Linked DNA regions of Homo sapiens. The protein of the gene in region 1 purifies or fractionates together with the protein of each later gene. This does not show direct contact. Each region holds a gene or a part of one and is shown in the gene's direction. Other genes may lie near its edges.

The links.
Region 2: the proteins of DDX50 (region 1) and ZFP91 purify together in Homo sapiens (affinity purification with mass spectrometry; one large-scale study listed by BioGRID and IntAct). This does not show direct contact.
Region 3: the proteins of DDX50 (region 1) and PINX1 purify together in Homo sapiens (co-immunoprecipitation; one large-scale study listed by IntAct). This does not show direct contact.

Annotation. Positions count from the first base shown.
Region 1 is NC_000010.11:68,914,815-68,918,314, forward strand, and holds part of DDX50 (ATP-dependent RNA helicase DDX50), read left to right. Parts: intron 1-3,500. UniProt on the Homo sapiens protein: ATP-dependent RNA helicase that may play a role in various aspects of RNA metabolism including pre-mRNA splicing or ribosomal RNA production.
Region 2 is NC_000011.10:58,610,063-58,613,915, forward strand, and holds part of ZFP91 (E3 ubiquitin-protein ligase ZFP91), read left to right. Parts: intron 1-235; coding exon 236-272; intron 273-887; coding exon 888-992; intron 993-1,541; coding exon 1,542-1,676; intron 1,677-2,215; coding exon 2,216-2,266; intron 2,267-2,699; coding exon 2,700-2,778; intron 2,779-3,853. UniProt on the Homo sapiens protein: Atypical E3 ubiquitin-protein ligase that mediates 'Lys-63'-linked ubiquitination of MAP3K14/NIK, leading to stabilize and activate MAP3K14/NIK. It thereby acts as an activator of the non-canonical NF-kappa-B2/NFKB2 pathway.
Region 3 is NC_000008.11:10,822,876-10,826,375, reverse strand, and holds part of PINX1 (PIN2/TERF1-interacting telomerase inhibitor 1), read left to right. Parts: intron 1-131; coding exon 132-224; intron 225-932; exon of another isoform or gene 933-1,003; intron 1,004-3,500. UniProt on the Homo sapiens protein: Microtubule-binding protein essential for faithful chromosome segregation. Mediates TRF1 and TERT accumulation in nucleolus and enhances TRF1 binding to telomeres. Inhibits telomerase activity. May inhibit cell proliferation and act as tumor suppressor.

The DNA of each region.
Region 1 (3,500 bases):
AGTGTGAGACCAGCCTGGCCAATATGGTGAAACTCTGTCTCTACTAAAAATAGAAAAATTAGCCGGCCTGGTGGCGGGCCCCTGTAGTCCCAGCTATTTGGGAGGCTGAGGCATGAGAATCACTTGAACCCAGGAGGTGGAGGTTGCAGTAAGCTGAGATTGCGCCACCGTACTCCAGCCTGGGTGACAGAGGGAGACCCTGTCTCAAAAAAAAAAAAAAAAACCACAGAAGTCAGAAGAAGAATCCATAAAGGAAAAGGTTTATAATTTTGACTCCATGAAAGTTAAACCAATGGTATGTTTAAAAAAAGAATTAGGGCCGGGCGTGGTGGCTTACGCCTGTAATCCCAGCATTTTGGGAGGCTGAGGCAGGCGGATAATGAGGTCAGGAGATCGAGACCATCCTGGCTAACACGGTGAAACTCCATTTTTACTAAAAATACAAAAAATTAGCCGGTCATGGTGGCGGGCGCCTGTAGTTCCAGCTACTCGGGAGGCTGAGGCAGGAGAATGGCGTGAATCCGGGAGGTGAAGCTTGCAGTGAGCCAAGATCGCGCCACTGCACTCCAGCTTGGGTGACAGAGCGAGACTCTGTCTCAAAAAAAAATAAAAGAAAAAAAAGGCTGGGTGCGGTGGCTCACGCCTGTATTCTGAACACTTTGGGAGGCTGAGGCGGGCAGATCACGAGGTCAGGAGATCGAGACCATCCTGGCCAACATGGCGATACCTCGTCTCTATTAAAAATACAAAAACTAGCTGGGTGTGGTGACCCGCACCTGTAATCCCAGCTACTTAGGAGGCTAAGGCAGGAGAATTGCTTGAACCCGGGAGGCGGAGGTTGCAGTGAGCCAAGATCGTGCCACTGCACTCCAGTCTGGAGACAGAGTGAGACAACATCTCAAAAAAAAAAAAAAGAAAAAAGAACTAAAGGTAATATTTACCGTATTTATGACAGGCAACTAGGTAACATGTCATCTTTCTATTTAATAGATGCATATATATGTGTATGTAGGAAAGACTAGGTGACTAAGTGAATAGTAGTATCTGCAGAATGTAATGCAGTGGTTAAAAACAATCAGTGATAAAAACCAAATTATACAATGATGTATACAAAAATTACACTATTTTAAAAAATAAATAGTGCTAAATGGATTCCTTAGGCATTTATGTAAATATACAAACACAGGTTGAAAGAATAAACATCAGATAATGATTACTTCTGGGAAGGGGCATGCTGGATGGTAAAAAGAAGCTTTGTGGGCCGGGCGTGGTAGCTCATGCCTGTAATCCCAGCACTCTGGGAGGCCGAGGCGGGTGAATCACGAGGTCAGGAGTTCGAGACCAGCCTGGCCAACATAATGAAACCCTTTCTCTACTAAAAATACAAAAATTGGCTGGGCATAGTTGCGCACGCCTGTAGTCCCAACTACTCGGCAGGCTGAGGCAGGAGAATTGCTTGAACCCAGGAGGTGATAGTTGCGGTGAGCTGAGATTGCGCCACTGCACTCCAGCCTGGACAACAGATTGAGACTCTGTCTCAAAAAAAAAAAAAAAAGAATAAGAAAAAAGAAGCTTTTTTATTTTGTAATGGTTGAAAGTTTTGCAGTAAGAATGTAAAATGTATAGTAAAAAACAGTTGATAAGAACATTTTCAAACATATAAAATTGAATAGTAAATTGAATAGAAAGATTGAATAGTATAAAGAACATGATATACCCATTACCTATTACCAGTCTTTAACAATGATCTTTTCTTCACCCCTGCATTTGAAACAATCCCAGTCATCATTTTATCTTCAAGTAATTGTATGTATTTCCAAAATGATAACTAAGGGCTCTTTAAAACCACAGTCATTATCAGTAGAAGAAAAACAGTAATTTTTTTTGAGATGGAATTTCACTCTTGTTGCCTAGTCTGCAGTGCAATGGTGTGATCTCAGCACGCTGCAACCTCCACCTCCCTGGTTCAAGTGATTCCTCCTGCCTCAGCCTCCTGAGTAGCTGGGATTACAGGCGCCCACCACCACACCTGGCTAATTTTTTGTATTTTTAGTAGAGACTGGGTTTTGCCATGTTGGCCAGGCTGGTTTCGAAATCATGACCTCAAGTGATCCGCCTGCCTTGGTCTCTCGAAGTGCTGGGGTTACAGGCGTGAGCCACTGCGCCTGGCATAGTAATTCTTTAATATCATTAAATACCTAGTGTGCACATTGCCCTTGCTGTCTTTTTTAAATAGTTTGTTTGAATCTGGATCCAAATACAATTCTTGACGTTGCTACTGATTGATATGCGTCTTAAACATTTTATAATCTATAGTTCCTTTTTTTTTCTTTGCAATTTTCTGTTGAAAAAACTCATTTGTTGGCCAGGCGCAGTGGCTCACACCTATAATCCCAGCACTTTGGGAGGACGAGGATGGTAGATCACCTGAGGTCAGGAGTTCGAGACCAGCCTGACCAACATAGTGAAACCCTGTCTCTACTAAAAATACAAAAATTAGCAAGGCATGGTGGCACGTGCCTGTAGTCCCAGCTACTTGGGAGGCTGAGAAAGAAGAATCGCTTGAACCAGGAGGCGGAGGTTGCAGTGAGCTGAGATCGTGCCACTGAACTCTAGCCTGGGCAACAGTGTGAGACTCCGTCTCAAAAAACAACAAAAAAACTCATTTGCCTTATGAGTTTCCCACAGTCTGTTTTGCTGATTTGCATCCCTGTGGTTTTTATTTTTCCTTATTTTTTTACTGTTAACACCACTCAAAGATGTGGTGGGTTTTCTTGTTTGTTCGTGTTGTGTTTTTGTTTTTGTTTTGAGAGTCTTGCTCTGTCGCCCCGGCTGCAGTGCAGTGTGGCATGATCTCAGCTCATTGCAGCCTCCACCTTCCAGGTTCAAGAGATTCTCCTGTCTTAGCCACCTGAGTGGCTGGGACTACAGGCATGCGCCACCATGTCCGGCTAATTTTTGTGTTTTTAGTAGAGATGTAGTTTTGCCATGTTGGCCAGGCTAGTCTGGAAGTCCTCACCTCACGTGATCCACCTGCCTCCGGCTCCCAAAGTGCTGGGATTACAGGTGTGAGCCACTGTACCTGGCCTCCCCGTAAGTATTTTAACATACATATCTTTTTTTTTTTGAGATGGAATTTCACTCTTGTCGCCCAGGCTGGAGTGCAGTGGCGCAGTCTCAGCTCACTGCAACCTCTGCCTCCGGGGTTCAAGCGATTCTCCTGCCTCAGCCTCCTGAGTAGCTGGGATTACAGGCGTCTGCCACCATGCCCAGCTAATTTTTGTATTTTTAGTAGAGATGGCGTTTCACCACGTTGGCCAGGCTGGTTCAAACTCCTGACCTCAGGTGATCCACCCGTCTCGGCCTCCCAAAGTGGTGGGATTACAGGCATGAGCCACTGCGCCCTGCCTATATATATCTTTAACTAGAGTGCCATATTTACAGTTTTTTAAATTGAGGTAAAATTCACATAACTAAAACTAACCATTTTAAAGTATACA
Region 2 (3,853 bases), on another chromosome or scaffold:
TGTTTACTAACTAGTTGCTGTTACATTTTAAATGTAATGTTGAACATTTGTGTTAACAGCTTAACTGTCAGGGGCAGGTTTGATGGTGTAGGTGGTATTTCTTTGAACAGTTTGCAGATATTCTGCTTTTGTATAATTACCCCATGCAGTAATTTGATTTGCATTTCTTGACTGCAGAGAGAAAATATCTTATATCTACACTAATAAAATTTTGTTTTTGGCTTTGTTTTTCTAGATGTTGGAGAAGAGCATCAGTCTCCAGGTGGCATTAGGTAAAAAAAACATTAATATTTCATTTTTAAACCTTTGGGGACATAGCATAGTCACAGTAAATGATTCAGAAGTTGCTTCCATTTGAAATTATTTTGAGCTGTAAGAGAAATTAACTTCAGTTTTGATACTGCATTTAGATTCCATGTTGAGCTTGATTAGAACTTAAACCATGTAATCTACTTACATAGCTTAGAAATCATGTCTTGAGTATCTTCTGTGTTTGGACTTATTCCATGGTAGGCACTAATGTGAAATATGGGTGTTTTGGCCAAGGTTTTGAGATTTTATTGGAATCTTTTGTGTTGTGATTTATCTGTTAGTAGGTCTTTTAATATAGCAGATCACCAGACAGTATTACAAAGTCAGTTGTTTCTTAACTTTTAATGCCATTGAGTTGTCATCACCCTGTCTTTATCTAGGATTTATGTCTTTTTAGTTTCAATTATTATTCTTTGTGATAAAACAGCTAGATTTCAGTCCAATTAGGTCATTAGGATGAAAATGCTAGATGACTTTATCAGTGTTTGGCTACCTCTTAAAAAATTACCAAATAAAATCCCCTCAGACATGTTCGCTACAACCAGAATGTCTCATTTCTATTTACTTATTTTTAGTAGTGAAGAGGAAGAGGAGGAGGAAGAAGAGATGTTAATCAGTGAAGAGGAGATACCATTCAAAGATGATCCAAGAGATGAGACCTACAAACCCCACTTAGAAAGGCATGTCTCAGATTTTACTGCAGACATGTTAATGAAATATAAGTAGGAAAGCACTGTTGCATGCTTTTATTTTATCTGTTGCCAAGCTAATGGGTATAGAATTAATTTTAAATGAGTAATTAATTATGCACTTCTTTTGTAAGTCTAACACCTTAATATACCCTGATAATAATCCTCTTTCCCATTTGTAGAACTTTATTTTGATTATATACAAGTTTTTATGAGTCTGCATGTTTTATTTCAACAAGGTATCATGAATTGCCTGAATACTTAGAATTTTTTAACTAATTGTCTCGTTTCTCTTTACAATTATAGTGAAATTTGATTTACAGGCATCTTTAGTCTGGGGAGGGTTCATTCCATGAGCAACATATACATATATTTGGATCATTACTATGCATGTGAGGATGATTGGTAGGAAATCACATTTCATGAACTGAGGAAGGTAGTTTTATAACAAATCAGTGATAACTCTAAGCTTTAATTTGTTGTCATAGTCTTCCTTGAAAAGATCTTTTGTCTAGTATTGAAATGCATTTGTGTTTTCAGGGAAACCCCAAAGCCACGGAGAAAATCAGGGAAGGTAAAAGAAGAGAAGGAGAAGAAGGAAATTAAAGTGGAAGTAGAGGTGGAGGTGAAAGAAGAGGAGAATGAAATTAGAGAGGATGAGGAACCTCCAAGGAAGTGAGTAGGCAATTATTAAAAATGAAAATCTAACAGATTTTGAACGACTAGTGGAAAAAAGAGTGGGAGTGTGAGGAAGGATGTTGACGTATACATGCTTCAAAATATGTATTTTTTAACTTAAAAAAATTTGGCCTCAAGCAGCTGACAATTTCACTGGAGAGACTCTTAGTAAAAAAATGTTTAGGTTTTTCAGTTCTATTGCAAGGAGAAGGTATTTTTTAATCTTAGTGTTTTTAGATGATACATGGTAGCAACTCTAAAAGTAATACATTGAGATTCTTCTAAGTCTTTCATAGTATTGCATAGTTTATGGAAGGTATATATTTAATCTGTCTTACAGACTGATTTGAAAGTGAAATTACTTCAGGGTAAAATTACTTGCTTGATTTGCCAGATATATCTTTGACTTTATGTATTCTTGGTTATCCTTTGCCACTTGTTCTTTGGCCGTGTGTGTGTGTGTGTGTCTTCAGCCAGCCTTCACTGTGTAGTTTTGATTCAGAATATGTCTACTGTTACCCTGTCTTCAATTACAGGAGAGGAAGAAGACGAAAAGATGACAAAAGTCCACGTTTACCCAAAAGGAGGTGAGGAATTTTTACCCCTACTGTTTTACACCTTATTCCAGTACCAGGCACTTTACTCACAAATTTAGACTTCATGATAATCCTGCAGGAATGGCTATTTAAAAATTTCACAAAAGCAACTTCACTAATGTCCTAGATGCACAGGTGTTATGATCTTATTTTCATTGTAAGAGCTTGAAATTTCTAACAATCTTAATACTTTACCTTTGGGGGGTCATTAGTTTATTTGTGTTACTTTTTAATTCTGTCAAATATTTGCTAATTCTTGGTTACTTCTAATACAAATTCTGTGTAATCTGTATAGTAGTAAAGAGATTTTAATTCTTCCTACTATAAAATAGCTATTCCCAATAGCACAGTTTAAGTCAGAGGCCACTGTGCAGAGTACCACTTTTTTTTTTTTGCTAACTTTTCTTCTGCATTTTGATAATAGAAAAAAGCCTCCAATCCAGTATGTCCGTTGTGAGATGGAAGGATGTGGAACTGTCCTTGCCCATCCTCGCTATTTGCAGGTCAGTGAAGTTGTTATATAAGAGCCTTTCAGGTTGTGTTCCATTACTTGTTCTTGCACCACGAGACTTTAATTTGTTGGCTTGTGTAGGCTTTATCATTGACATGTAATGTCAAGAAAAGTCTTTCTTTAAACATAAAATGACTTTAACCCATTTATGCCTAGTGTTCCATTATTAGAATGCTAAGCTTGGGCAAGTTATTTATATCCTACTGTTCAAGGTCATCACCAAGGTCTGATTTTTCACAAAAATACATTTGCAACCTCCAGCATAAATGGGTTAATCATGATTAGTCCATTTGTGCTGCTATAATAGAGTACCTGAGACTGGGTAATTTACAAAGAACATATATTTATTTATTAGCTTGTGGTTCTGGAGACTGGAAAGTCCAAAAGCATGGTGCCCACATCTCACAAGAGCCTTTTAACTGTGTCAGCCCATGGTGGAAGGGCAAGAATGGGTTGAACTTGCTTTTGTAACAAATCTACTCCAATGATAATATCAACCCATTTATATAAGGGTAGAGCCTTTAAGACCTAAGCACCTCCCATTAGGTCCCGCCTTCCAACACTATCACATTGGGGATTAAGTTTCCAACACATGAACTGTGGTGAACACATCCAAATTCATAGCACCTCCTGTTTAAAAAGAGGTGACTAAGAATCTGAACCCACATAGAGAACTTTCGTTGGAATCTTTCAATATTACAGTAATTCCCAATGTGGTGTAAATACAGAGTAACATTTTATTTTAAAGTGATTTAGAAAAAAAGTAAAATTAGAACTCAAACCTGTGATTTCTTGGGTACTGTGTAGAATGAATAAAAGACTTTTAGTTGAGGTTTTGTTTTTATTTTTCTTGAGTAGATTATTATTATTATTTTTGATGAGTAAACGTACCACTTATATTTAGGTCTGGCAGGAAACGTGAAAGTGAAATACTGCTTAGGAAATACCTGTTTGATCTTCAGCAACAAATATAACATGACACGAAGGCCTTCTTCTGGATCGTGGTTCAGTTATAACAATAGCCGCTCCTCCTCTGCTGTGTGCCATTTGCTGCTCTAAAGCACAGT
Region 3 (3,500 bases), on another chromosome or scaffold:
CAAATGAATGAAAGAGTTCAATCATTAATGATAGGGCTCCTAAAATTTTCTTTCAAGACTATCCACTGTTAGGAGAATAAATGAGATTGGATTAGAAAGACTTTAATGTATTTTTTTCATCTTTTTTAAAGATTCCTCGGACAAGAAGGAAAAGAAATCTTTTAGCCTTGAGGAAAAGTCCAAAATCTCCAAAAACCGTGTTCACTATATGAAATTCACAAAAGGTAAGATTAAGCATTTCTTTACTTGTTATTGAAATCTACGTGTTTGTCCTGAGTTGCTTGAAGCATTTTAGCTCTGGGCCAATAGCGACTTCATGCTTTATGGACAGCTCCGACTGCATTGCTGTGAAACAGCGCTGGAGTCTTCGCATTGACTGTGGTGTGCCTGAGGATCTTGTTAGAATTCAGATCTAGGAGATCTGAGATGGGACCCAGATTAGGTTTTAGACTGTAAACAAGTCCTGTGGCTGAGCTAAAAAATGGAATCAGCTTATATTTAGAGGAAAACGGGACTTTATGTAGCTAGGTCAGAAAATAATTTTAATTTCTTGCCCAACATTTTTAGCTGCATGGTGTTTTTTCACAGCTGAAAGTTGGTGTTAAATAGCTTTTAATACGCCAGGTTAGAGAATTATGCTCTATATTGATACCTCCAGTGTGATAAAGCACACTCCCTGGTTGACCCTTTATTCCACGTAATTTCTCCATTTCACAGCGTAGGCATTCCATAGTCATTGCCAAGTCGGGTAAAAAGCCGTTTGAGACCTGGGTGAGAATTCCTATTCCTTCATCACCACCTCCCTAGCCCCTTCCCAGTATGTGAAATCATTTGTGCATGCGGTTGTTGTCTTCAGCCACTAGGTGGCGATCTTGCATTGGAAAGAAGCAATTTAACCTAATAGAACCAACTCCCCAGTTTGTCTGTAGAACAGTATCATGAATTAGAAACCTACTTATTACATAGTTTACATAAGAAGCGTGATGATGCTGCTGATGCTGTAATATCTAGTCTCTGTTGATGGTTCTTTCCTGGGAGGTTGGATGTGTTTCTACCTTGATATGCCAGGAACAGCACATCTCTGCTTTGGTCTTCTAGGAATGTCATGCGTATCAGGGCATTGCTGGGAAGCTCTTAACTTGTACAGCCAGCCTGGATAGCAGTGGGAGCTGGAATCCCCACTACTCTGAAGTATTGATGATGCTTTTCATTTAGGGCCAGGAGCCCAAAAGTGAGGGCTGGGTTTGGTTGAGGTGAGAGGCCGTGGCAGAGCTGAGTGGATTGGGGATTGTGTGCAGGGAGAGGCTGGGCCTCCCTTCCCTCTCCAGCAGCCGTGGCTCTTCCGCTTCCTCCGTTCTTTCTCTCACATGGAACTTTCTTGGCTGTCGCCCGTATCCCTTCTGACTGGGGTTCTTCTCCACCCCAGCGTGCTATGGAACAGAATACAGGCTTCCTTGGCCCTCAGTCCTTTTGAAGAGAGGGTACATGCTCACTTCATACCCAGTCCCTGAAATAGCATTTCTTCTTTCATTAGACTGTAGAGAAAAACTAGAGATCACAGAAGGTGCTGTTGCAGAGCAAATTAATAAAACTCAGTGACCTGTAACTTTCGGATGATGTGGCAGCCTTTTACGCTTTCACTTTTACAGGTAGAATCTTCTAATTTTCCTTTGATGCCAGACTGCATGCATGATTTCATCTGAAGCATTTGCTGAGGCTGGGATAAGCCTCTGTAATCTGCTTTAATCTAATGGATGCCGGGAGCATCTGCTTTCTATTTCTAGTTAAGCCACTCCTTTGCTGGGTGACCCTGTGAGACCGCTGAGTGCCTCGTGCCTTCGTTTTCTGTCTTCCAGCGAGGGTTCTGTATCTATTAGCCTTGCCTGGGGAGAAGAGGGAGTCAGTATGCAGAACAGAAGGATTCTCGGATCTATTGTCAGATTGCAGAGAAGAGCTGGAGTGGAGACGGGAAGGACATGCAGACTGGGCCTACGTAGGAAAGGGAGAAGGAAGCAAAAGTCCAGGGAGTGAGGAAAAGAATGGTTTATCAGCTAGCTTTCCAATCACGGTGCACACTTATTTTAAAGTTTCCTCTAGGGTGGACTATCTTAGATCACAGAAAATCTCACTCTGGCCATTACTCGCTCAGACAAGTCACCTACCCATTTCCCTTCAGACTCAGTTTCCTCTTTTGTAAAATGTGGATACATTTGTAAGTGACTATTAAGTTCTAAGGTAGGTTCTGTTTTATGATTTATTAGAAATGACCCATTTCATGGAACTTTTGCTTTTTCAGCATTGTAGATAATAAAGATTTTCGCCAGTGGGTATGCTGATAACGACTGTAACTCATTCACTTAGTTGATGAGGATGATTCATATTGCAACTCATGTATCGTCCAGGAAATCAAACAGGAAGATGCAATTGTACATAGCTTGGGAAGAGTGAAGATTAAAATTTTACTCTACTAAGATTACAGTAGCAAATAGTGTTGTAAAATTTGCTACTGCCTAAATATCAGCTGTATCATTATTTTTATTTTTATTTTGAGACAGGATCTCACTCTGTTGCCCAGGCTGGAGCACAGAGGAACAGTCTCAGCTCACTGCAGACTTGACCTTCTGGGCTCAAGTGATCGTCCTGCCTTAGCCTCCCAGCGTGCTGGGACTACAGGTGTGAGCCACTGCACCTGGTTGGTTATATCGTTTTAGTTCTGATATATAATTATTCCTTTCCCTGGTCCTGAGTTTATAATTCTAACTTGAGCTAATTTATTGTATAATTTTAAATGTCAGTTTTATCATACTTATTTAAAGGCTCAACTCCAGCTTGGTTTGTAGTTTTTTGTATTTTTTTTTAATGCAAAAGGTCTCTGCAGATAGAGGCTATATCTGCAGAGGGGAAAATGTCAATCGATACAAAGCCATTTCTGAGGTTTTCTGACTGGATGGTGAGACGTTGGCAGGAGAGCAGGAGAGCAGTGCTTCCTCCCCTCAGTTATGCAGTTGTTGGATGAAAGTTGCATAAACTGTAATTGTGCAGCTTTATCCTGGGAATCTTGCAGACTTCTTAATCCTTTTGAGAGTTTGGGCTATTTTATATGCTACTGAAACAAGGAAACTACATGCCTAACGCATGTGCAGGTGCTCGGCTTCCTGGTCGGGAAATACAGAATTGGTATTCACAGCGCAGTCAGCCCCGCCCCTCAGTTGCACACTGGTAGTGAGGAGCATTCAATCTCCTCTTCTGATTCTTTTGACATTTAAATAAATATCAGGTAGCACCTGGTAGGTCTGACCTGTGTCACTCACACTGACTCTTTCCACTTTCCTGGTTTATGGTGTCTTTTAGTGGAGTTACCCTTATCTTCTGCCCTCGGTTGACTGCCAGTTCTGTGTGTTTGCCATTTAAAAAGATAAAAATAAAAGTATGTCATTTTATTTGTCCTTCTTGATTGAATAATGCAAATGAATTTTCTAAACTATTGAAGCTACCTACAT